Homo sapiens: one gene and its partners. The protein of the gene in region 1 interacts with the protein of each later gene in a biochemical or structural test. Each region holds a gene or a part of one and is shown on either strand. Other genes may lie near its edges. The genes, in order: SHH, PTCH1 and HHIP.

Region 1 (7,867 bases):
CCCTGCCCTCAGCACCCGAGCCTCCGCCTTCCCCATCCCTTCCTCCCCCACCCTTAACTCCTGGAATCGGGAGAAGGAAGGTAGGGGAGGGATCAACCGGGGATACCTCACAGACTGCCAGCCCCTACCCCCCTCGGTTTTAGGGGACCTTTGTGGGGTCTGCCTGATAATCCCGGCCTGGCTCTCCTCACCCAACCCCCACTTGGGCCGTCCTTCCCCCTCCTTTTGTGTTGGGAACGGGAATAGCCACTGCCCAAGGAAAAAAGTATTTGTTTTCGTTTCGTTCGTCTGAGGGAAGTTGACAGAAGGTCAGAAGTTCAAATGCTGCCTGTGCGCGCGGCGGCGAGAGTGGCCGGGCGCGGGGCCGCTGGGCCCTGCGTCCCCCGGCAGGGCGGACGGGGGTCGGGGGGAGGCCCCCGGGCTGGGGGCTCCGGCTGGGACGCGGAGGCCTAGAGGCCAGGCAGGCGGCGGACTGGGGATGGGGGCGCGTCCCAGGGCAGGCCGGCGGAGCCCGCGATGCGCCCCGGCCCCTGCGCGGGCGCCCCCATCTCCGCGCCCCCGCCGCCGGGGACACTACAGCGAGCCCGGCGCTGCTGTTAGCTCCTGCGGTGCCTGCGCTCCCGCGCGTGGAGCAGCAGAGCCCGGCGGCTCCAGCCCAGCCCCTCGCGCACTGAAACCCTAGCCGCGGGGGATCGATAACCCGGGAGTAAGTGGGGCTGCAGGCGTCTGCCTCGCTGCGCGGCTCTGTGCGCTTGCAGCTTTGCAGCAGGGCTGCAAGGCCCAAGCCCTGGGAAGGTGTGCGAGCCCAGGACCCCTTCTGCGGTATTGGCCTCCCGCAGAGCAGGGCAGAAGCTGACCCACTCTGGCTCTGGGACCTCGGGTATCCACGCCCCCGCCGCTCTCTCCGCAGTGCCTCCCTCCTCTCGGGTTCCGAGGGACCCTGGCAAGGCCCCTCCTCCGCGGGGAGTGAGGGTGACGAGAGGATGGGCGCCTCGGGCTAGCCGGAGAACTCCCTCCAGCCAGCTGCACGCAACGGGCACCCCATGGCCCGTGCAGAGTTAATTGTGGATCGCGCTGCTGTCTGGCACTGGCGCGCGCGTCCACACTCGCGGTCCAGATTTAAGGTGGTCGGGAGCAGATGAGGGAGAGCAAGGAAATCAGGACCATTTCCCATTCCTCTCCCTTCCGACAGCTGGAGCAGGCTACCTTGCCTGCCCCTCGCCTTTCTCGGCCTCAAGCAAGCCTGGGAATCGGGTCGGGAAGCAGGGCGGCACGGAGGTAGCTCCTCTCTCTCTGCCGTCAGTACCCTCCCCCTGCACTTGCGCCCCACCAGCGCCACTCCATCAGCCGCTGTACGCACCTAGCCCTAAAGGTAGGACTTGAATATTTTAATAGGGCAATAAAAAGGATGTTGACCTATATTTGCAAGGAAACCCATTTCTGGCTTCAGTTATACGTGCATGGAGTTTCAGAAAGTCTAGAATTGGCTGGGAGATTGGCAGCTCAGAAATCTCAAAGGAGGTGGGGAGAGAGAGAGGAATTCATATTTTGCTTAGCTTCCCCTCCCCCCACACTAATATTTATTCGCTCTTAATTCTTATGCAAGCAGGTTGAAAACTAAAGTGATGCAATGCCAATAAGTTCTAAGTCCCTCCCCTAAGGTACCTCGGGCTTGGAAGAACGAAAGAGCATCCTTAAAGAAATATCAATACATTCACACTCTGATGGGCACAATTGCGGACACGCAATCGCAAAGCCAGCTCTGCGATACAGCCAGCCACCCAGGGACGGGCGGAGTCTCCCCTGGAGCCCCTGCCTTTTGTCAGAACCGCCTCCTGGCTTTTCCAGTTGAGAATTCTTTGGTGGGGAGGTGCAGGGTGGGGGTAGTGGTGGGAAAGAAAACCACAGAGGCAACGGGAAACGTGGGGGCTCTGAGCTCCAATGCCCAAGGCTACGTTCGTTCGTTCGTACAGTACCAGGAGACCACTTCATGTTTGTGGGAGGGGGATTCCCAGCCTCTCCTTCCATTTCCACTCCTGACTTGGAAAGGGCCGACGCCCCCAAAGTGAAGGTCTCCCCAAGTTACAAGCCAGGGCAGAGGTAGGATGGGGAAGGCCATTGTAGCAAGACTCATCAAATCAGGGCCATAATGAACCACGTCTGTTACCGTCCTCACCCCCACCACACCCTAAACTTCTCCAGCTGGACCCTTGACCTCCATTCTCCTCCAGGAAGAGGAAGAGATGGGGGGCGGGCAGGTGGGTGGGGAAGGAGCGGGTGAAATCACCTTCCTATCTGCCCGAAGAGCAAACAGAGTTAAGTCTGGAAGTGTTCGGCTTCTCGTAACCCCCTGGAAAGCCACACATTCCACGCCCCGGCGCTGGGTTCCTACCTGAGTCATCAGCCTGTCCGCTCCGGTGTTTTCTTCATCCTTAAATATGATGTCGGGGTTGTAATTGGGGGTGAGTTCCTTAAATCGCTCGGAGTTTCTGGAGATCTTCCCTTCATACCTTCCGCTGGCGCCTAGGGTCTTCTCGGCCACATTGGGGATAAACTGCTTGTAGGCTAAAGGGGTCAGCTTTTTGGGGTGCCTCCTCTTCCCGAACCCCCTGCCCGGTCCGCACGCCAGTCCCGAGCATACCAGCAGCGAGGAGACGAGGACTAGCAGCAGACATCTCGCCAGCAGCAGCATCTCGCCCATGGAACTGATGACTTCCGAGCTGTCCCCGTGCGGGTCCGTGCGCGAGTGCGCGCGGCGGGTGTGTGCGTGTGCGCTCTCTCTTGCGCTTTCCCTTCCTCGCTCCGGCTCGCCCGCTCGCTCTCTCCCTCGCTGGCTGCCTCGCTCTTTCTCTTCCTATATAACCTTGCCCGCCGCGGCTGCGGGGGACTCTCCACCGCTCCCCACCCAGACAGGGGCTGGAATGGCAGGCTGCCGGCCGCTGATAACGGAACACATCGGAGTTGGGTCGCGAGACAGCAATCAAAAGACAAAAAGAGTCTGATTTTAAATGGTAGCAAGCCTGGAGAGCTTGTGAGAGAGGCTGCCTTTAGCACTATATTATAGCTGCCAGGGGCGCATCTGATTGGCCAAAGCCGCACAAGCTTGTCTTCTGATGTTAACCCTGAAGAAGACTACGTTTTTTTTTTCTGTTGCTGCTGTTGCTTTATTTTCACCTGAAGGATTCGAGTTAAAAAAAAAAAAATCTTTCCTAAGATAAAGGTGGGCGGGAGGGAGGAGCGCATGTCTTGTGGTAACAGCAGTTACTCCCGGCTTTGTGTACATCCTTGCGTTTCCCCCTGACTTTCCCTGGAATGGTAGGTGCTTCAGTTAAAACCAACTTAAGTTTTTAAAGGACAGTTTAAACCCCCGCAAGCTTCAGTCATCAAGCACAGAGTCGCTCACACATTTGAGGGGCACAGCTGCCCAGCTGTTATTTAATTTTTCTTCCCCAGGGACTTTATAGTGCAGGCTGGCTCTCCCTGCATTTTGAAGAAAGAGGACTGAGCCCCTCCTGAAGACTCAGCCTCTGTGGACCGAGGATAATTATGAGTGACCATAACTTAAAGCACTGGTATTTGAAATGCTTTAAGTGCCTTAGAAAAATGTAAAAATACTGCTCTTTTATTGTGCTTCAATTAATACATTTTTTTTTTTGTAGAGCTCTGCAAATGGGATGGAGGCGTGCTCAAGGGCAGTTACAGAGTGAACTGCGGGCGTCAGGGTGGATGGGCAAAGCAGGTCTGGGGGCTGCACCCCAGCACAGGGGAGAGAGTGGGGGCCAGTGTGTGCGCTGGGTGTGTGGAGGCCATTGCAGGGTGTTGGGGGGGGGGCAGGCGAGTGGGCGAAGCTGTGCTCACACAACCCCCACGATCGATCAGAGCAAAGTGCAGAGCCAGGGGTGAGCTGAATGTGGAATTCAGGCTCCTTGCAAAGCTGGCCTTGTGTGGGGGCTCAGCAGGCCAGCAGTCTTCAGGCACAGGAGCCACCAGTCCTAGGGGCTGCAGCCCAAGGGGTCAGGGGCCCTGGGGGAACAGTGTTCTGGTTAACGAGGGGCTTCCTAGAAAGAGGGCACAGTGCCCAGGAGGTGGCAATCTTTGAGTCTATAATCACCTCACTTTTTGCAGAAAAAGGAAAAAAACTCAAAAGTCCTAAGTAAACCAGGAAAATAAAATTTGAAGCTCCCTCTCAACCCTGCTTTTCTTTTTTTTTTTAAAAAAAAAAAAACAGATCATGCCCTTCCCCTTCTCAATCGCCATCCCACTCATGTGCAATGATTCCTCTAGCATAGGATTAGAGAGTGAGGGTTATTTACGTGGAGGGGAAATCCTGACCCTGAGGAGTCATCAGATGCTGCAAATGTGGCCCTGTGAAGTTAAACACTCTCCCTTGACCCCGGGCCCTTGGAGTGGAGGGGGAGAGGACCCCTGTGAAGCTCAGCCCTCAAACGATGGAAGTTTCCAGAAGTTCCCTTTGCAGATCAACTTTTTGTGTGTGTGGTGGGGGAGAGAAGGAGAGGAGCATCTTAGGACACATCTGTCTTGGGCATGAGAGGCTGAGCGTTAACAAGACTCGGTGGCCTGGGTGCCTTTGGGGAGGTTGACCCGGGCTCCCCTTCCCGCCTCTCTTTCTTGTTCCTTTCCATGGTTTGTGACGAATCGTGATCCCTGGAGGAGAGCACCGTGGGGGAGCAGCGTCCACTTGACCAGGCCCCGGCAGCCTCCACTGAGCGGAGCTGGAGCTCAGCTGAGCCCAGGGATTCTCCAGGCGGTGTGTCTGCGCTGCCTGTCCCGTTCCCAGTAAAAACAGACACAAAACAGGACCCGTGTTCTCTCCAGAGGAGGCCGGCCTGTTTGATGTGTCTACCTGCACAGCATGTGGATGTCACATCACTGGGTGGTGCCTGGGCTGGACCAGCGACCTGGCCCAGTGGGACATTTGCAAACTTTTGACTGCCCTGCCTTCCACCCTTGGCATCTCCTCTTGCCCCAGTCCCTCCTCCTCCCCCTGTCTTTCCCCGCTACTTACTCCCTTCCAAATGCAGGCAGAAGGCCCCCCACACGGGTTGCCACCCTGGGGCCTGAGAGATTGGGTGTGCAGCCCTGCCGGGAGGTGGCATGTGCACACAGCTCACCTCTGCAAGGGGCAGGGTGGGTGGGGTGTGCTTTTGGAAGCAAAAGCCTGAGCTGCACAGAGTTCCTTGTGGGCACAGCTGGACGTGGGGTGCCCCCAGGTGCGGTCAGCTCCCTCTTAGCAGAGCGCAGGGAGAAGACGTGGCTTGGCATTGAGCTTGGGTGACTCAGGGCATTTCCTGAAACCTCCCTGCCCTAAGGGATGGCGTGAGGCCCCCTCCCTCCCCTCCATCTCCAGACAGCCCTAGACACCCTGGAGAGCACCTCAGGGGCCGCCCCCCTTGTAGACTGGCCGATCCTCCAGAGTGAAATAATGATGGGCCAGAAAGCCTGCCCCCACGCCTAAGTTCAGAGGGCCTGCCCCCTGCATGGGTTGAGGGGAGCTCGGCGCAGAAAGCAATCCCAGTTATAGACCAGGCTGCTGACTGAGCCCCCCAGAGAAGCTGCTGCTCTGCCCTCCCGCCCTTCACTCCCTGTCCTTCCATCCCACCTGCTCCCCACGGCCCAGCACTGCCTTCCCCTCCAGAGGCCAGGTGGCTCTATCTCTTTGCCTTCCCCCCCCCCCCCAGACCATTTGGCCCCCTCCCCGCACCAGCAGAGGCTCCAAACACCAGCCTCCCTGACAAGGCCAGACATCCGGACATGCTGGGGCTCCGTTATTCATCTACCTGGGCTCTGCCTCTCTTCCTTGGGGTCACGCGCATCCCTCCCTCGCTCCTTCCTCCAGCTTTCCCTCCCCCACCCTCCCCCACCTCCACCCCTTGCCCAGCATCCCTGCTGAGGACAGAAGCTGCCTCCTCTTCTGCCCCAGCCCCCAGGCTCCCTCCTGGGCACTGCCCCTGCCCCTCCTTCCGGCCCCTGCCGCTAGATGGCCTCCTCACTCTGCCTTCGGCTCGGGCTTGGCCGGTTTGGGAAATCCCCGCAGTCCCAGGTCGGGAGGCCCGGAAGCCAGGCAGCCTCCTTCGTTCATCCTCCCCTGGTCCCGTCAGCAGTTTCTGCGCCCCCCTCATCCCCTCTTTCCTTTCCCAGATTTGTACCCGCTGGGCTCTGCAGTTATGGAGCCCGCCTGCCTGGCATCTCCAGGTGCTGCCTCTGTTTCTAGTCTCTGGGGTTGGCCTCTAATCTTTCATGTCCTTCTCCCCTTTGATTTTTCTTCCTTATAGTAATTCCACGCAATCTCTTTCCATCCAGCCATCCAGTCTCCACTTCTTTCTGGATTTTCCCTGTTTTGGCCGGTGGAACTTCTGCACTCCAGTTCTCTTGTGATTGCATCCAGGGCCTTTTGAATTTGGGAGGGATTCTGCACCTTAGCCCCCTTTCCCTAACTCCATGGTCCTCCCCATCCCCGGGCCCTGGGGATGTGAGTCTCCAGCTTCCTGGAGGGCTCAGGCTCTGGATAGCCCAGGAAATCCAGCCACACTCTGCACAGCACCCTGATTGTGGCCTGGCTGCAGGTGGATTGAGGCAATGCTGTCCTCTCCGTGCCAAAGCCCAGGAGCTTTGGGGTGGCTGCAGGGCTCTCTGGACTCCTGCAGCCACATCCTCATGGCACCAGCGCTGAGGGCAGGCCCGCTGGGAGGCAGCTGCCAAGACACACAGGGCCTCGGGGGACCATGGCTGGCATGTGGAGCCAGCTACGCTGGGTGCCCACTGTGCAGCGTTTCTCAGTAGTGCTGTGCAGCGGGCACGGGGCCACCCCCAAGCTGCCACAGGCCCCATGACTGTGGGTGCAGCCTGGCTTCTTCCCGGCCTGGGCCACTCTGTGAAGCAGGGTGCAGGAGACACTTTGGTGACTGGGATTCCTGCCCTCATGCCTGTCCGCCTGCACACCAAGCCCCGTGGAGCCCCGTGGAGCCCCGTGGAGCCCCGTGGAGACCCGGCTCACATGCATGAAGGCTGCAGGCTCTGAGAGATGAGGACCCTGCAGTTTCTGGGGACGCTGGAAAGATCACACAGCCAGCTCTGTCGAAGTAGACATCCTAAGGCAGGCGATCAGCTCGGATGTGAACGTGCAGCCTGAACTATGTTGCTGTGTGCCTTTGAGCTGATTTTCTCTCTTTAGACCATTGCCTGCCTTTGTTGAGTCACTTCGTCTTCATTTTAAGTAATGGACACCTCTTCTTAGGTCTAAATAATGCCTCAGGTGTGTGCCTCTGTACAGTTTCAAAGTGCTCTAGCACCGTTGTCAGGGGAGCCTGAAGCTACATTTGGGAGTTGGAAAGGGAGGCACAGTGTGGGCAGGTGGCCTCGTGCCCAGGGAGGAAGGGACCCTGCGTCTGCATGCTGCTCCTTGCACCCCAGCTACCTAGAGATCCTTCCACAAGACCATCATTGCTTCCATCTTGGAGCCTAGTTAAGAGGCAGGTGCCCCAGACAGTTAATGCATTAAACCCTTGCGCACATGGGCCTCACCTGGGGGCTGAGAAAAAGCCGACAGGCCGCGCTGAGGCCTCACTCCCGAGCACTCAAATCAGAATTTCTCCTTTGCTGACTTCCCTGATGGGGATCCCAAAACCCAGGAGCGAACGTGGGAGGGGGAGATGTGGGTGCAACTGCCAGCTCCAAGCCCCCTGCTGCTCCCCCAGCCCGCGGACACTCCCCAGCCTCCGGATGCTCCGTCTGCTTGGCCCCCCAGCCCCTGGACGCTCCCCAGTCCTGCTTGATGCCTGTGTGCCTTGGGTCCCGTCTGCCCGGCTGGGCCTGGCATGGAGCTGCACGCAGAACTTCAGACAGCAGC
Region 2 (7,101 bases), on another chromosome or scaffold:
GAAAGAGGTTAGGTAGTTTTTAGAAGAACGCTCTTGAGAGGGAATTAATTATTGGAAGACATCTCTCCGGAACTCAGGCTTGCTGGTTCACCTTCAGCATAAACTCACAATTCCCATCCAAAGCCCTTTGTGGAAGTTCTCCCTGGATTGTGTTAGGTGGCAGTTATAGCCAGGTTTTCTTTCCTCACCCTAGGACGTTTATCAGTTTGAGATTTGTGAACTAAGCAGTTCTTTGAGAAGCCTCGTTTTTTATTTTCTTTCTTTCTTTCTTTCTTTTTTTTTTTTGAGACAGACTCTCACTCTGTCACCCAGGCTGGAGTGCAGTGGTGCAATCTTGGCTCACTGCAACCTCCATCTCCCAGGTTCAAGCAATTCTCCTGCCTCAGCCTCCCAAGTAGCTGGGACTACAGGCATGTGCCACCACACTCAACTAATTTTTTGTGTGTTTTTAGTAGAGACGGGGTTTCACCGTGTTAGCCAGGATAGTCTTGATCAGGAGATCCCTGACCCCGTGATCCACCCACCTCAGCCTCGCAAAGTGCTGGGATTATAGGCGTGAGCCACCGCGCCTGGCCTCGTTTTTTATTTTCAAAGCCATGTCTGGCAATTTCCTGGCTCCTCAGCATTGCCAGTGCTTTTCTCTGTGGTGCCCCTTCTGCCGTGCCCTTCCGAGCTGGGTCGACTTCCACCGGCTTCTGTTGGCTTCCCCTATTAACAGCCCAATTTTGTAATTTTTACTAGGTCAGCAGAAGATTTGCCAACGCACTGCAGAATTTAGCCCTGTGTTTATTCTAGGTTATGGAGTGACTTTTGAATCTGTACTTATTTATTCTGCGTACTATAATCACACACAGGAATTTCTTTCTGCTTAACTCTCCTTGACCTTTTATGTTTCTTGCTCTCACACCCCACAGGCTACTCCAGAGGCAATTTGGAATGTGCCTATTAAAACCTCAGGGGACACGTGTGAAATTGTATTTCACGTTTTAAAGGGGGACATTTTGATATACTCGATCCACTTTATATAAAAATGTTTAACTGTAAAATCAGGGTCGCGTGACCTCTTGGAAGCATTCTGGAAGGGAACTGCTTCTGTTTGTTTTAAATTCTATCTCGAGTGTGCTCTCTGTTCTGCCTTTGTGGATTTGGTTTGGTTAGGTTACTAGCAACACGTTAGTAGTTTAGTTCCCAGGTTTGTGCCTTATCGGTTTATGGAATTATTAGAGATAGAAAGGCCCAGAAACAGTCAAGACTATTCCTATCAAATAGGCTCTTGATGATGTAGCAAAAGAAACTCTTAACATCTGTCACGGTTTCAAATGCTTCAAGAGGAAAGGGAAAGAAAAATATTGTTTAAAAGCATCTTTATTTTCGAAGCAGTCCTCTGATTGGGCGGAGGCATGTTGGTGACCTCTGAATTTTTTTTCTGCTCCCAGGCAGCGGTAGTAGTGGTGTTCAATTTTGCCATGGTTCTGCTCATTTTTCCTGCAATTCTCAGCATGGATTTATATCGACGCGAGGACAGGAGACTGGATATTTTCTGCTGTTTTACAAGGTACATTTTCAGACTGCTGTGGCCTTTTGATTGGGTGCAGAATGGTGCTGTGAGAGAACTCTTTCAGCCTGTGGACTTATAAAGGAATGTGGGTAACGGGGTTTGTGCTGGTGTGGAGAACGTAGGGGAGAGATTGGACAGAGGCTGCTTCCCTAGGGGGACATCAGAGTCCCTGGGCTTCCTTCTCCCCTGCCGCAGCTGAACAGTCTCACAGCCCTCAAGATGCTGGTTCCGATGACCCCTTTTTCCATCATGAACTGATGTTGCCGATTGTAGGAATGTTTCATATCTCTGCATTAGAGCAGAACAAGATTGAAAAACACCCATCTAGAAAATATATAGTCCTTTGATGGTGGTTTGGTTTTGTTTGGAATTGTGCTTTGAAGGATTCATCATCATGGAACTTGCTTTTGAAAGCCAAATTTAGGATCAGTCCTCCATGTGGCCTCCTCAGACTGACTTTTATCTAGTTCACCAGGCGATGAACCAGGTGATGTTATCAACCAGGCGATGTTTCTGGAATTCAGCAATGTGATGTTTCTCTCCTAAGTCAGAGCTGTGTAAAATGGGTATTCTCCGTACACAGTGAAAAATGGCAGAATGAAAGCACCATTTCCCTGTTTCAGCATAACATTGCAACATGTTTCCCCTCCTTTCAGCCCCTGCGTCAGCAGAGTGATTCAGGTTGAACCTCAGGCCTACACCGACACACACGACAATACCCGCTACAGCCCCCCACCTCCCTACAGCAGCCACAGCTTTGCCCATGAAACGCAGATTACCATGCAGTCCACTGTCCAGCTCCGCACGGAGTACGACCCCCACACGCACGTGTACTACACCACCGCTGAGCCGCGCTCCGAGATCTCTGTGCAGCCCGTCACCGTGACACAGGACACCCTCAGCTGCCAGAGCCCAGAGAGCACCAGCTCCACAAGGGACCTGCTCTCCCAGTTCTCCGACTCCAGCCTCCACTGCCTCGAGCCCCCCTGTACGAAGTGGACACTCTCATCTTTTGCTGAGAAGCACTATGCTCCTTTCCTCTTGAAACCAAAAGCCAAGGTAATCTGCCACAACTTAAGGCTCTTCCTGTCTTCAAAAAAATAACAGAACCTTTGGAGTTCATCAGATTGCTTCTACTTTTCTTCTTTTTCCTTAAAAAAAAAAAAATTTCGTTTAAGTATGATACATTTCAGTCCTCCAAAAGTCAATGCTTTTAGAGCATAGGGCCATTTTAATGAGGTCATCTTCCATGGGAGTGAACCTCTATGCAGCAAGTCTTTTTATGAATGAGGTTGTTTAAAAATGTGATTATTGCCACTTGCGGTGGCTCATGCCTGTTAACCCAGCGCTTTGGGAGGCTGAGGTAGGAGGATTGTTTGAGCCAGGAGTTCGAGAACAGCCTAGGCAACAAAGGCCAACCCTGTCTCTACAAAATATTTTAAAAATTAGCCAGGGACAGGTGTGGTGGCTCACGCCTGTAATCCCAGCACTCTGGGAGGCCAAGGCCAGCGGATTGCTTGAACCCAGGAGTTCGAGAACAGCCCAGGCAACATGATGAAACTCCATCTCTACAAAAAATTGCCTGGGCATGGTGATGTGCCTATAGTCCCAGCTGCTTAGGAGGCTGAGGTGGGAGGGTCACTGAGCCCAGGGAGTCGAGGCTACAGTGAGCCGTGATGGTGCCACTTCATTCAAGCCTGGGTGACAGAGTAAGACCCTGTCTCAAAAGAGAGGGGGAAAAAAGGCATGGTGCTGTGTACCTGTAGTCCTAGCTACTTGGGCAGCTGAGACAGGAGGATCATTTGAGCCCAGGAGTTGGAGGCAACAGTGAGCCCTGATCATGCCACTGCACTCCATCCTGGGAGACAGAGTGAGATCCCAACTCAGATACATAACAAAACAAGGCTGGGCATGGTGGCTCACGCCTGTAATCCCAGCACTTGGGGAGGCCGAGGTGGGTGGATCACCTGAGGTCAGGAGTTCAAGACCAGCCTGGCCAACATGGTGAAACCCTGTCTCTACTAAAAATACAAAAAAAAATAGCCAGGCGTGGTGGTGCACACCTGTAATCCCAGCTACTTGGGAGGCTGAGGCACGAGAATTGCTTGAACCTGGGAGGTGGAGGTTACAGTGAGCCGAGATGGCACCACTGCACTCCAGCCTTGGCAACACAAGACTGTCTCAAAAAATTATATATAAAACAAAACAAAATAAAAATGCGATTACTATGATTTTATCCTTTTTCCTATGGGAGAACAACCCCTACAAGATAAATCAGTTTAAGTGTGGTGGTGAAAACAAGGTATTAACTAGACAGCTTCTCTTTGTCCAGGAAGAGTCAGTGGTGCTCCCTGGGGTCTGACCTTGTGCCTCTTCTGTTCCAGGTAGTGGTGATCTTCCTTTTTCTGGGCTTGCTGGGGGTCAGCCTTTATGGCACCACCCGAGTGAGAGACGGGCTGGACCTTACGGACATTGTACCTCGGGAAACCAGAGAATATGACTTTATTGCTGCACAATTCAAATACTTTTCTTTCTACAACATGTATATAGTCACCCAGAAAGCAGACTACCCGAATATCCAGCACTTACTTTACGACCTACACAGGAGTTTCAGTAACGTGAAGTATGTCATGTTGGAAGAAAACAAACAGCTTCCCAAAATGTGGCTGCACTACTTCAGAGACTGGCTTCAGGGTAAGACGGCGTGGGAGGCTCTCGTCCTTTCGGTCTTTTGCGTGTTCAGCTTCAACAGGTTCCTTTGTCATGATTATGAGAGCGTTAGATTAGAATGTAACACTGACGTGTTTCATGGACTTTTAAGAGTTGCTCAAGATTCTTACATGAACTGTTTCTGCAGCAGCCTCCCAGATCTGGCTTTTACCTATAAAATGATGCAGATAATTCAGATGAGCTTCTGTGAGAATGTACAAGTGCACGTCAGGAAAAGGGGAGCATGTTGTAACAGGTGGAGCCGAGGCTTCTGGTGCTCTTTCCTCTTGGATAGACGGTGGCTAGTTTGGTGACCACATAAAATCAAAGTGCGGCTGGGATTTCCAGACTGATTGCCAAATTATAGCTTACTGCACCAGGAGATGCTAGATAAGCAGTGGACATAGTCTTACACTCCATATTTTGACCATCTCTTTAAAAATTATCTATTTCTAATTGACTTTGTTTTTAGAGCAGTTTTAGGTTCCCAGGAAAATTGAGCAGAAGGTGCTGAGATGGCCCATATCCCCCTTCCTCACCCACACACAGCCCCCTCGACTGTAAACATCCCGCACCAGAGGGATGCATTTGTTACAGCTGATGAACCTGCACATTATTACCCAGGCTCCATAGTTTACGGTTGGGTTCATTTTGACCATTTTTTGATTTGGTACTTGAAGTAAAGTTATAAATGCTTAGTAACATTTCACATTATTTTATAAATAATTAAATTCTGTTTTAAAATGCCTTTCTTGGTGGGGCACAGTGGCTCACGCCTGTAATCCCAGCACTTTGGGATGCCAAGGCGGGCAGATCACCTGAGGTCAGGAGTTCGAGACCAGCCTGGCCTACTAGTGAAACCAGCTCTCTACTAAAAATACAAAAATTAGCTGGGCGTGCTGGTGGGTGCCTGTAATTCCAGCTACTCAGGAAACTGAGGCAGGAGAATCGCTTGAACCTGGGAGGTGGAGGTTGCGGTGAGCCTAGATTGTGCCATTGCATTCCAGCCTGGGCGACAAGAGCGAGACTCCATCTCCAAAAATAATAAATAAATAACAGTGCCTTTATTGGCTTCTTCACTCTTAGAAATGTTTCTAGGAAATATTCATCAGCTGGAGGGGAAAAAAAAGTCTAAATTTTCTCCTGACCGACTGCACGTAAATGTATGCAGTGATTCCAGGAACATCTGTTCATTTATTCTGCATTGACACATGCAAAGCCAAGTAGAGAATCAGGATAATTATCCACCCAATTCAAGCAAAACACTTTTACTGGAGTACCAAATCATTATGGCCCCCAACATTTTTTGGCTTGGATTATCCAAATGATTGTCTTAATTTCCCACTTAATTAGGCTTGTTTAAACACAGATGTAAGTGCCTTTTTTGGTCTGAAGTCAATACACTTGTATGTAAAGACTCAGCAGCCAGTTTCCCTGAGAGTTTGCAGGAAATGGTCAACAACTTGAGGTTGGTAGAGGATGGTTCCATACAGCTTCTGGCCTTGACTTGTGTTTACCAGAACTTTGTGTCTACATGTACACCCAATTTGACTTTCCTTTTGGAGGAAGGTACAGAGAACATGCCATGATTATTATTTATTAACACCCTCCTGAGACGAACGTGAATTTGTTCCAAGTTTTATTTTTCACATTTAGTTTAGAAAGCAATGGTTTTTGGGATAATGAGTTAAAAGAGAGACAGTGGAGAGAGTCCCTGCTTTCATTTTCCCCCCATTGACCAAAGACATATAAATAACTTGCCACAAATGACAAAGAGATCTGCTGTGCCCTGCCAGTCTGTGAGCAGAGAAGGGTTATTGTAGAGTGTATTTCAGTGTCTTTGGCCATTGCTCTGGAGGCTCAATGTGGCATGTTAGGCAGGGATTGGGAAGGGGGTAAAGGGGGATTGTCTCGAGGCAGTGCAAAGGGTTAACCTTTTTATAGAGCATTGTAGATCATCTCTATACGTTTCTTCCTTTATAGATGTAAATCAGCTGGAGTTGAGTTTTTTTTTTTAAGGTGCATTTGAATCATGTTTTGATTGCTGTGTGAACAGCATACACCTAGACCAAGTGAGATCCATTGGTGCTAAGCAATCAGGGTCCCAGGCAGCCCTGGGACTCCATGACTGACTCTTACAGGGTCCGCTAGAGCACTCAACACAGAATGACCAGACACTGGAGCCCTTTGCTGCCTACACGTTTTTCAGGCCTGTTGAATGGTTGATGTGGTGTTTGAACATTTTCTACAAGGAAACAATTATCCTTGAGTCAGCTTTCCTTGCTGACATTTTTGTGTGGCTTTTAAATGGTGGGAGCCTCATTGGTTTTTAATGGAATTCCCATTAAAACTATGTCATCTCATTGGTCTTTATCGACATTACAATAGTTTGTCTTTGATTTTTTTTACTCCTAAAACTATATAATGGTTAATTTCAAAACTATCCCACATGTCACATCTTAAAACATACATGCAAATAAGGCAGAGTCAGATAAAAACCATGCCTCGAGTCATGTACAAATGTGTTCATTTTTATTTCACACTGGATTATGCAAACAAAATTTTGATTAACATTTTACTTCTAGGGTCCCATAGCTGAAGGAAAATGGGCAATTGGGGTTATTCCTTTGGCCTAGAACTTTACATTAGAAAATAATTATTGACACAAAATATTCATAAGAGGAGAACTTCTAGCTAAGATATTAAGGTTTGCTGTAAAATAAGTAAAAAGTCACAATTTTCTAGAGTGTGCATGCATTGGAATATGAAGCACTGGCTAAAGGGCAGTGGAAACCCAACCTTATCCCTTGTTTTGTATCCAGGGTCGTACCTTG
Region 3 (8,089 bases), on another chromosome or scaffold:
ATCTCTCCTGTATACACATTATGAAATAAGATCCTAACATATATTATAATCCAGGAAGGCTTACGGGAAAAAGGGAAACACTGAAGTTTATTATAAAATAACATGTTTTAAAAACTATTAAAACTTGAAAACTAACATAGGTCAAGAATGCATATGCATAGCTATAGCAAATCTCTGTTTTGAACAATTTGGGTATTGTTGATTTATAAACCTCTTGTAATAGAACCAGCAAAAGTCTAGTGTACCAAACTTAATTCAGACACACTTTCCAAATGAGTAGGGGTTTGTTGGAGATTGGAAGCACATAAAACAGAAAGGAATGTATATAGTTAACATGGCAGATTGCTTCCTAAAGAATGATTTCTTTAAAAAAATTTTTATATAACTTCTCTTAAGGGCTATAACTCCCCTTGGTCCCATCCCCCTTCCCCTTCTCCTCACCATTTAGTCAAGAACAAAATTTTCATTCCACATGTCTCTGGAAGAGTTGAGTATTGCAGGGGTCTCTAGATCATCAGTATATTCATAGTACGTATTGCACCAAGGGAGACTTAATGGCAAATATTTCTAAACTTTTCTCTGAATTTCCTGGTTCTTTAGGGCTCCTGATAAAACCTTTAAGGTGACCTGAATATAGCTATTTTGAAACTTAATTCAGTTGCAACACAGGAGCTTAAAGACATTGCTTTGAATAAAATCCTGGAATATCTGTTCCCTGAATCTCAGGCTCCTGCTGCATATGGTAAGAATAAAAAGAGAGTTGCAGCTGAAAACCTGCAGCAAGACAGTTCTCACTCATCTGGGAATAGAAGGAGTTGGACAAATGCTCCCTCAAAAGGCATGAACATTTGGACAGAGCTGGGGACTGAAAGAGAATGATGTTCTCTAGTTTCACCCATTAGTGAACCAACTAACAAATACAATGGTGTTGTTGTTATTCTTTTGCCATAAGCAACAGGACTCTGTGTGTGGGCAGCAGTTTAGTGGGGAGGAGGATAAGTCGACCCCTTTTTGTCCTATTGATTTTTTCCTATTTGCATGACTTGAGCAAATTAAATGATGCAATATGGCTTTTTGTTACAAAACAAAGTGAGAGATACCACCCAGACACATATGTTGATTCGTAGGAGCTGTTTACATGAGAATAGAGTGAAATCTACCGTGAACTGAGCATAAAAATTAGATTCAGCCTGGGTATTTTTTTTTTTTATTATGCCTGGGCCAGCAAGACTGAAGCACAAGTTTTCCAAGAGTCTCTCAGACCTTGACAACTGGCAGTGTTCTAACAGAGGAATTCTTAATTAAACCTAAAATGGGGAAAGGGAGGGGGAGCAAAGACACCTGATTGTTTATTTCACGTGCAGTGATTGTTAATGATGTGAGCCAGCAATGATTCCTTGGAGTACAGTAGATACCACCCATGACTGCATCTCCTGGCAAGAACGATATTGCAAACTCAAAAACAAGCGTGCCTTTACAGTCAACAAACACCATGTTAGTATTTAAACTTATTAACACAAGGATAACGTAAATGCCATTACTCTTAAAACAAATTCTTAGAGTAGATCTTCCAAGACACCAACTGACCCTGAAAGTCTGAATTTATAATGTTACAAAATGACGGAGAATCGTCTCAGTTTTATGTGATAAATAACGCCCCAGCAAAATCTTTCGCCAGTTTTTTTCAGGTCCCTAACCGGAGGACCAGGAGTTCCTTTCTGTTGGTTTAACTAATGTAATGCAAGACACCCCCCTCTGACGGGGCTGGGGATCATAAACCAACCATGCTTCAACATCCTTTACGATTCAATCCTCTCCCTAACCGAGCACGTGGAGAAAACAGCACAAATCTTTTTACCCTAGAAAAATAAGCCGGAAACCACAGCCACCTTAATTTACAGTTTCACCGCAGCCAATGCCCCATTCGATCCAAAACACACTGTTCATCGCGATTCTTTTAAAATATTTACCCAGCCCAGGGTGCGGGTACCGCAGAAACGTCTGTTTTCAGAGATAGGCAAGTTTGCACAGCATCCCGACCGCGGACTCTGGGGGAGGAAATGCTACTTGCTTACCCCAGAGGAACACACAACGGAATCACGTTAGCGCTATAGAAAAGTTATGGAAAGAACTCCCCCAAAGAAGTTTTGACCTTCTTACAACCACCGGCTTTGCCAGAGCCACAGGGAACCCCACCCAGCCAATATGCCAAGTACGCATCCGTGAAGCCGGTGAGTGCCTACCTTATTCTCCAGGCGCCCTAGCCCCGGGCTGTCACTCCGCAGGCAGCAGGACAGCCGAGGGTAGAAGCCACCGCACAGCATCTCTCCCCCACTCAGCAGCTCCAGCTGGGACATCATCCTCCTGTCTCTCCTTTTCAGGCGCTTCGGGGGGTTCCCATTCAGGCACCTTCTCCTCCTTGCTCCGCTCCCTTCGTTTCTTTCCCCAAACTTAGCATCTCCTTCAAAGAAGCCCAGAGCCACGGCCAGCAGCAGCAGCTTAAAGGAGAGCATCTTCAGCATCGTCTGCCCAGAGCAGCAGGGGCTGGGCGCGGGAGGATGGGGGGGAACGCCACTGCCCAGCAGGGGCACTAGGGCGCAGCTCCAGGAGGAGTTTGCGGGGCTGTAGGGCACTCCAGAGACAGAGGGAGGTGGCGGGGACAAAAATATGTACAGCGATGCAACTTTGCAAAAAATAAAAGACGCGGCGATGGGTCCAATGCCTTAGGGGAGCCCGAGGAGCGAGATAAAGTTGTGCGGATGACACCGTTTGCAGTTGTGCCAGTGTCAGTTGGGTTGGGGGCTTTCTGCTGCGGCTGGGAAGTGGGAGGAGGAGAAGGAGTTGGAAGAGGAGGAAGAAAAGGAGAGGACAGCCACAGATGTTCACTTGTCCGTGTAACGGGAGTTGTTTAGGTGGGACAGTAGCAGGAACAGAAACGGCGACGGCGGCGGCGGGGCAGGCGGAGGCAGGGCCAGCGCTGGGCTCTAGATGATGCTGAGGTCTCCTCTGCCGGCGGCTGCAGCTTCTCACACAGCCTCTCATGTTTCGTTCCCTCTTTTCTTCTTCTTTTTAACTAGCGCGCGGGGAGGTGCTGCCACAGCGCGCCCCTTGACGTCACCGCTTCTCGCGCGCCCCCGCCCAGGGTGGAGGGAAGGGGAGGGGGCGGCCCCCGCGCGAGCGCGTCCCCCGGGCCCCGGCGGCCTCCCTGCTGCGGCGGGGAGGGGCGGCTAGCCGCGACGGCGGCGGACGGAGGGGGAGGGCCGCGAGCCTTCGGAACCAGCCTCGAGGGTGCTGAACCCCGCGCGCCCGCCTCGCCGCGGCCCCCGGGTGGGGGCGTCCACGGCCCGGGTTCCCGGCGGGCTTGGGGCAGGGACGCAGTCCGGAGATTCCGGGACTGCCCGGCTGCTGCAGCCCGCAGGCTCCTCTCTCCTCCCCGCTTCCCCTCCGCACTGCCTGGGCTAAAGGCGGCCAAGCTGAGGCTCCGAAAGAAAGTAAGTAAGAGTGGGCCGTAGGAGGTGGGAAGGGAGGGACCCCTTCCAGGGCCATCCCCACCTCAGCCCCCCGGCCCGCCCCTCGCCCCGTGGGAGGGTGAACTAAGTGGGCTGGAGCGGACGGGAGGGAGCTTTTGGGCCCCTTTGTCTCCCCCAGCCGCACTGACACCCCCATTTTCCACACTGATTTTCAACGTGAAGCTCAAGTCCTCAAAGATCTTTCTTGGGGTCTGACTTAGAGGCAGGGGGACATCCCAGATGCCGTTGAGTAGGCTGAGATGGTTTGGAGACTCATCCTCGCCGGAGGTCCTGCAAGCCACTGAAGTGGCACAGACGCGTGTGCGCGGAGTGGGGCGGTGTGTCGGGCCACAGGCCAAGCCCAAGTCGGCCTCCCAGAGTGTTTGCCACGGTTTGGGCGGGTTAGTCCCCGACGCCCCTTTCAGGTCCCCACATGTGTTCGGGAATAAGCCGGGCCCCGCTGGTACCATCTGGGAACACAAGTTCTTGGGCCGCAGGTGGACGGAGAGAGAAGCTGGGCGCGGAATTAGTGTTCGTTTTAACACACACAAACACACACACACACACACACACACACACACCTGCACGCACGCGCGCGCAGTCCCTGGGGAGAGGTTCCCCTGGGTGTAGAAACAGAGGCGTTAGATCTGGAGAAAGAATTAGATGCAAGTCTGAGGGCATCCAGAAGCGCTGTGCTCTACTTATCCCCGTGTATACAAGTAAATTAACCTTTTCCCCAGCTAGACAAAGTCTGTGTAAATAGTGTGTCTAAAAAGATGTCTACGTTATCAGGAGCGGTGACTTGAGGTTTACTGGATCCCTGCAAGTTGGCATCAGGACGAGCTTCTATAGGGTTGCCCACAAAATGCGCTTCTAGCCCACTTGGGTATTTAACAGAGAAGCTGATTTCCCAGAAGATGGGCTTTGATGAGGAGATAAGGCAGTTGTCCCATTTTGGCAATGGAGGAATGTTCACCACATTTGGGTTTGCTTCACTTGTTGGACATTGATTTCGCCAAGTGATTGCAAAAGTTGGTGATGGTTGAGGTGGGCAGTTGATTAAATTAATCACTTCTGGTCACAGTGGCTAGGTAAGGCTTCTGTCTTTTTCACTTCCTGAGCCTGGATATTAGTGAAGTTAGGTTTTTCCCCAAAGAGATGACACATCAGAATAACTGAAAAGAATCTGCTAGGATGTTTGGCCCAGTCCTCAGCTAAATGTAGAGCCCCCATGACATATTTAACATTTTCCCCAGGGGCTGTTGTATACACATGACTTCTTCATGCATGTGATTGTAAGTCCACTTTGGATCTCACATACTTTTTTTTATCTGACATTCTTTCTGCTTTGAGGACTTTTAATATAAAATTAATCAGAAAGCAGTAAGCACTTTAAGACTTTAAACTCATTAATAGATCTCCAGATGAATCTCATCAAATTTAAATCACTTGCACAATTTCATCTCATTAGGTAGTTTGAGAATAAGGACTCGGATCCAATCTGGGGTGCTTTCCACTATCTAACCCTTTCTTCCCAAATTCCAGTTTTATATTCTTTTTCCAAAATAAAAGTCCTTCTAAAATCGTATTTCAGTAGTTTGAGCTCCTACTCTGATAAATTCCTGTTAGTAGTTTTGAAACAGGCCTTTCTTATGGCTTATACTAAGGCCACTTAAAGGTAAATTTATTTTGGTTTTAAAATACTATGCATCTGTTATAACCTACGACCCTAAGATATAGAAAGTTTATAAAAGATTACTGAAATAAGACATGCTTGTTATTTCTTGATATATGGAAATTAGAATTGATTTCATATACTGTTTGTCCTGAAAGTCAATAAATTGGGTCACTTAGGAGATAGCTTGAGCTTATTCTTAGTGTTACTGATATAATTTCTAAACAGTTACTAAGCAGTGTTATACAAATGGACTAACTTCTGATTTGTTTTTTCCAGAGGGAAAATTGCAACCCTTGCCTACAACCAGACTGACAGCATAATTTCTTAGGAATCAAGAATCAATACAGGGTTATTTCTTTAGATTAAACCTTAAAAGCCCCCTTGGAGGCTGAAGAAGCAGAGGATAGCCATGCATACACTTGAACGTGAAAAATGGTCCTCTTTCATTGGAGAGGTCTTCCTCTTCAGCTAAACCGACAGAGTGGTGAAAAGAAGAAGGGACCCCTTGTTGACCAAAATAATCCAGACAAATCAAATCGGCCCTTTCCAGCAAGGAGTGGAACAGCCCAAGGGTGGCTAGATCACATCTTCTGCTCACACCACCACTGAGCAACCCTCTCCAGGACTGCCACCTATGCATAGGTCATGCCCTGTGCAAGAGCACATAAAGTGGGAGCTGAAGTCCTGCCCAGGCTCCATTCACCAAGCAGAGCTTATGTTGTTGTGTGTCTGTGTCTACCCAGAGGATGTGGGTCCTTTTTAAAATGTGCACCAATGCATCTTGTATGAGCTGGCACCAGCTCGGACCATCCCACCCTCATACCCTGGTCCTATCCAGGGTTATATTCCCTACTTTAGAAGAATTAATTATTTTTATGAACGTATTTAGTTTATTGTAAAAAATGAAATATATGACACAAATTGAAATTAATTTCAGAGGTAAAGGTCAGAATATTACCATGTATGTGAATTATGTTTGTATGTATATGTATATATCAAGAGAGTTATATGAATATACATTTTTGTGTATCAGAAGTGAGGACAATTTAACTTTGTTAAGTGTTTGAAATAAAATTATTTTGAGTTTTGGAATCAGTTTTATGTATGGATTTCTGGCCTTCACAGAAATATGTACTATTTAATTCCATTTCAACAAATATATATTAAGTGTCAGGCACCGTGCTAAACAGTATGTATATAGTACTGAAAAATAATGCAAACACCCTGCTTCTAGGTAGTTAATAATCTAGTATAGAAGACAAATGATAAGGTCACAAATAAAATTACAGTTATAAATTGTGGTAAAAGGTATGAAAGAAATGCTAAGGTACAGAATAACAAAGCACACCTATTTCAGATTAAGTGACTGGAAAAAACTTCTCTGGGAAAATGACATTTCAGTTGAGACTTAGGATGACTTGGAAGGAGTACGAAGTGACTCCAACCACTGTTTAAAGTATAGGATCTTTTGAGTTCAGAATATAATTTGATACATTTGAGGAGAAGTGCAGAATAGATAACTCAGAATGGAAAGGCTAGAGGCCAAATTCGTAGATTTTTAGTTTATACACTCCAGGTAACTAATTAAGTTAGTGCCATGTATTTGTCATTTCCTTTTGTTTTTGCAAGTGCTCTTTCTTTCCTACCTTATACTTATCCATCTTTGTCTCTTTCTTTAAATTCTGGCTTAACAGCAACCTCTTCTAAGAATTATTCTAGTTTGAATGGCCTTTCAAGCATTGCACTTCATCTAAAAAGCATATAGATACATTTTATTTATTTTCTTTTGTGCATCATTGGTAAATACCTGAGATGTTTTTATATGTGCAAGTTGAATATTCATGAGATTATAATCTCCAGAAGGGCAGGAATTGCATTTCCTTCTTTGGAGACGCCAACATAGTTTAGTTTAGACTCATAGTAGAGCAACCGGCCTCTCAATAAATGCTGCTGAGTGGCTGATCTTGATTGAGTTGATAATTTTTAAAGGTTTAAAATGGAGCTCATATTTGCATTATAAAAACTTTAAATTGGGCCAGGCACAGTGGCTTGCCCCTGTAATCCCAGCAACTGGGGAGTCCAAGGTAGGAGGATTGATTGAGCCCCAGAGTTCGAGACCAACCTGGGCAACATAGTGAGACTCCATCTCTAAAAAAATTAGAAAAATTATCCGGGCATGGTGGAGCACACCTGTAGTCCCAACCACTTGGGAAGCTGAGGTGGGGGGATCACTTGAGCCCAGGAGATCAAGGCTGCATGCAGTGAGCTATGATTGCACTGCACTCCAGCCTGGGTGACAGAACAAGACCCTGTCTCAAAAAGTAAATTTTGAAATAGAAGAAAGCACACAATTTAAAGTGCACCATCACTAAGGAAGTGCAGCTGACCTTTCTACTAAAGTGTGATTCCACAGAGGAAGGACGGCCAGCAAAGCGAGGCAATAAATACACAGCCTTTAAAAATTAAAGATTGGTTATAATTCAGGTAAATGGACACAATGGTAGGGCTGCTTCTAGGATTTTTTCTACAGTTAGTCTTTCTTTCAAAAGTCAGCACCTACTGTGTGCCAGAGCCTGCTCTGGACCCTAGGAACACAGCAGTGAACAAAACTTTTTTCATGGAACTCATATTGTAATGGGGAAGACGGGTAACGATATAGAGTATACCAGATGGGGAGGAATGCTGCAGAGAAAAGGGAGCATGGGGAAAGATTGCAGGGGTTGGGAGAAATAATAATTTTGTATACATTGTCAGGAAAAGTGTTTACTGGGGCAATATTTGGGCAGATACAAGAAACAAGGGCAGAGAAATAGCCAGGGTCCACATTGCATGGGATCTTATAAGGTATGTTATGGATTTAGACTCTTAATTCGGAATGAGATGGTTTTCAATCAGGGGCCTT

The links.
Region 2: the proteins of SHH (region 1) and PTCH1 are reported together in a solved structure, tested with the Homo sapiens proteins (5 studies listed by BioGRID and IntAct, with this or other methods).
Region 3: the proteins of SHH (region 1) and HHIP form a complex in vitro, tested with the Homo sapiens proteins (one study listed by IntAct).

The regions. Positions count from the first base shown.
Region 1 is NC_000007.14:155,809,431-155,817,297, forward strand, and holds the start of SHH (sonic hedgehog protein isoform 1 preproprotein), read right to left. Parts: upstream 3,034-7,867; 5' UTR 2,693-3,033; coding exon 2,393-2,692; intron 1-2,392.
Region 2 is NC_000009.12:95,464,267-95,471,367, reverse strand, and holds part of PTCH1 (protein patched homolog 1), read left to right. Parts: intron 1-1,348; exon of another isoform or gene 1,349-1,436; coding exon 1,437-1,555; exon of another isoform or gene 1,556-2,214; coding exon 2,215-2,617; exon of another isoform or gene 2,618-2,709; intron 2,710-3,921; exon of another isoform or gene 3,922-3,942; coding exon 3,943-4,252; exon of another isoform or gene 4,253-4,439; intron 4,440-7,101.
Region 3 is NC_000004.12:144,641,109-144,649,197, reverse strand, and holds the start of HHIP (hedgehog-interacting protein precursor), read right to left. Parts: upstream 3,043-8,089; 5' UTR 2,523-3,042; coding exon 2,244-2,522; intron 1-2,243. UniProt on the Homo sapiens protein: Modulates hedgehog signaling in several cell types including brain and lung through direct interaction with members of the hedgehog family.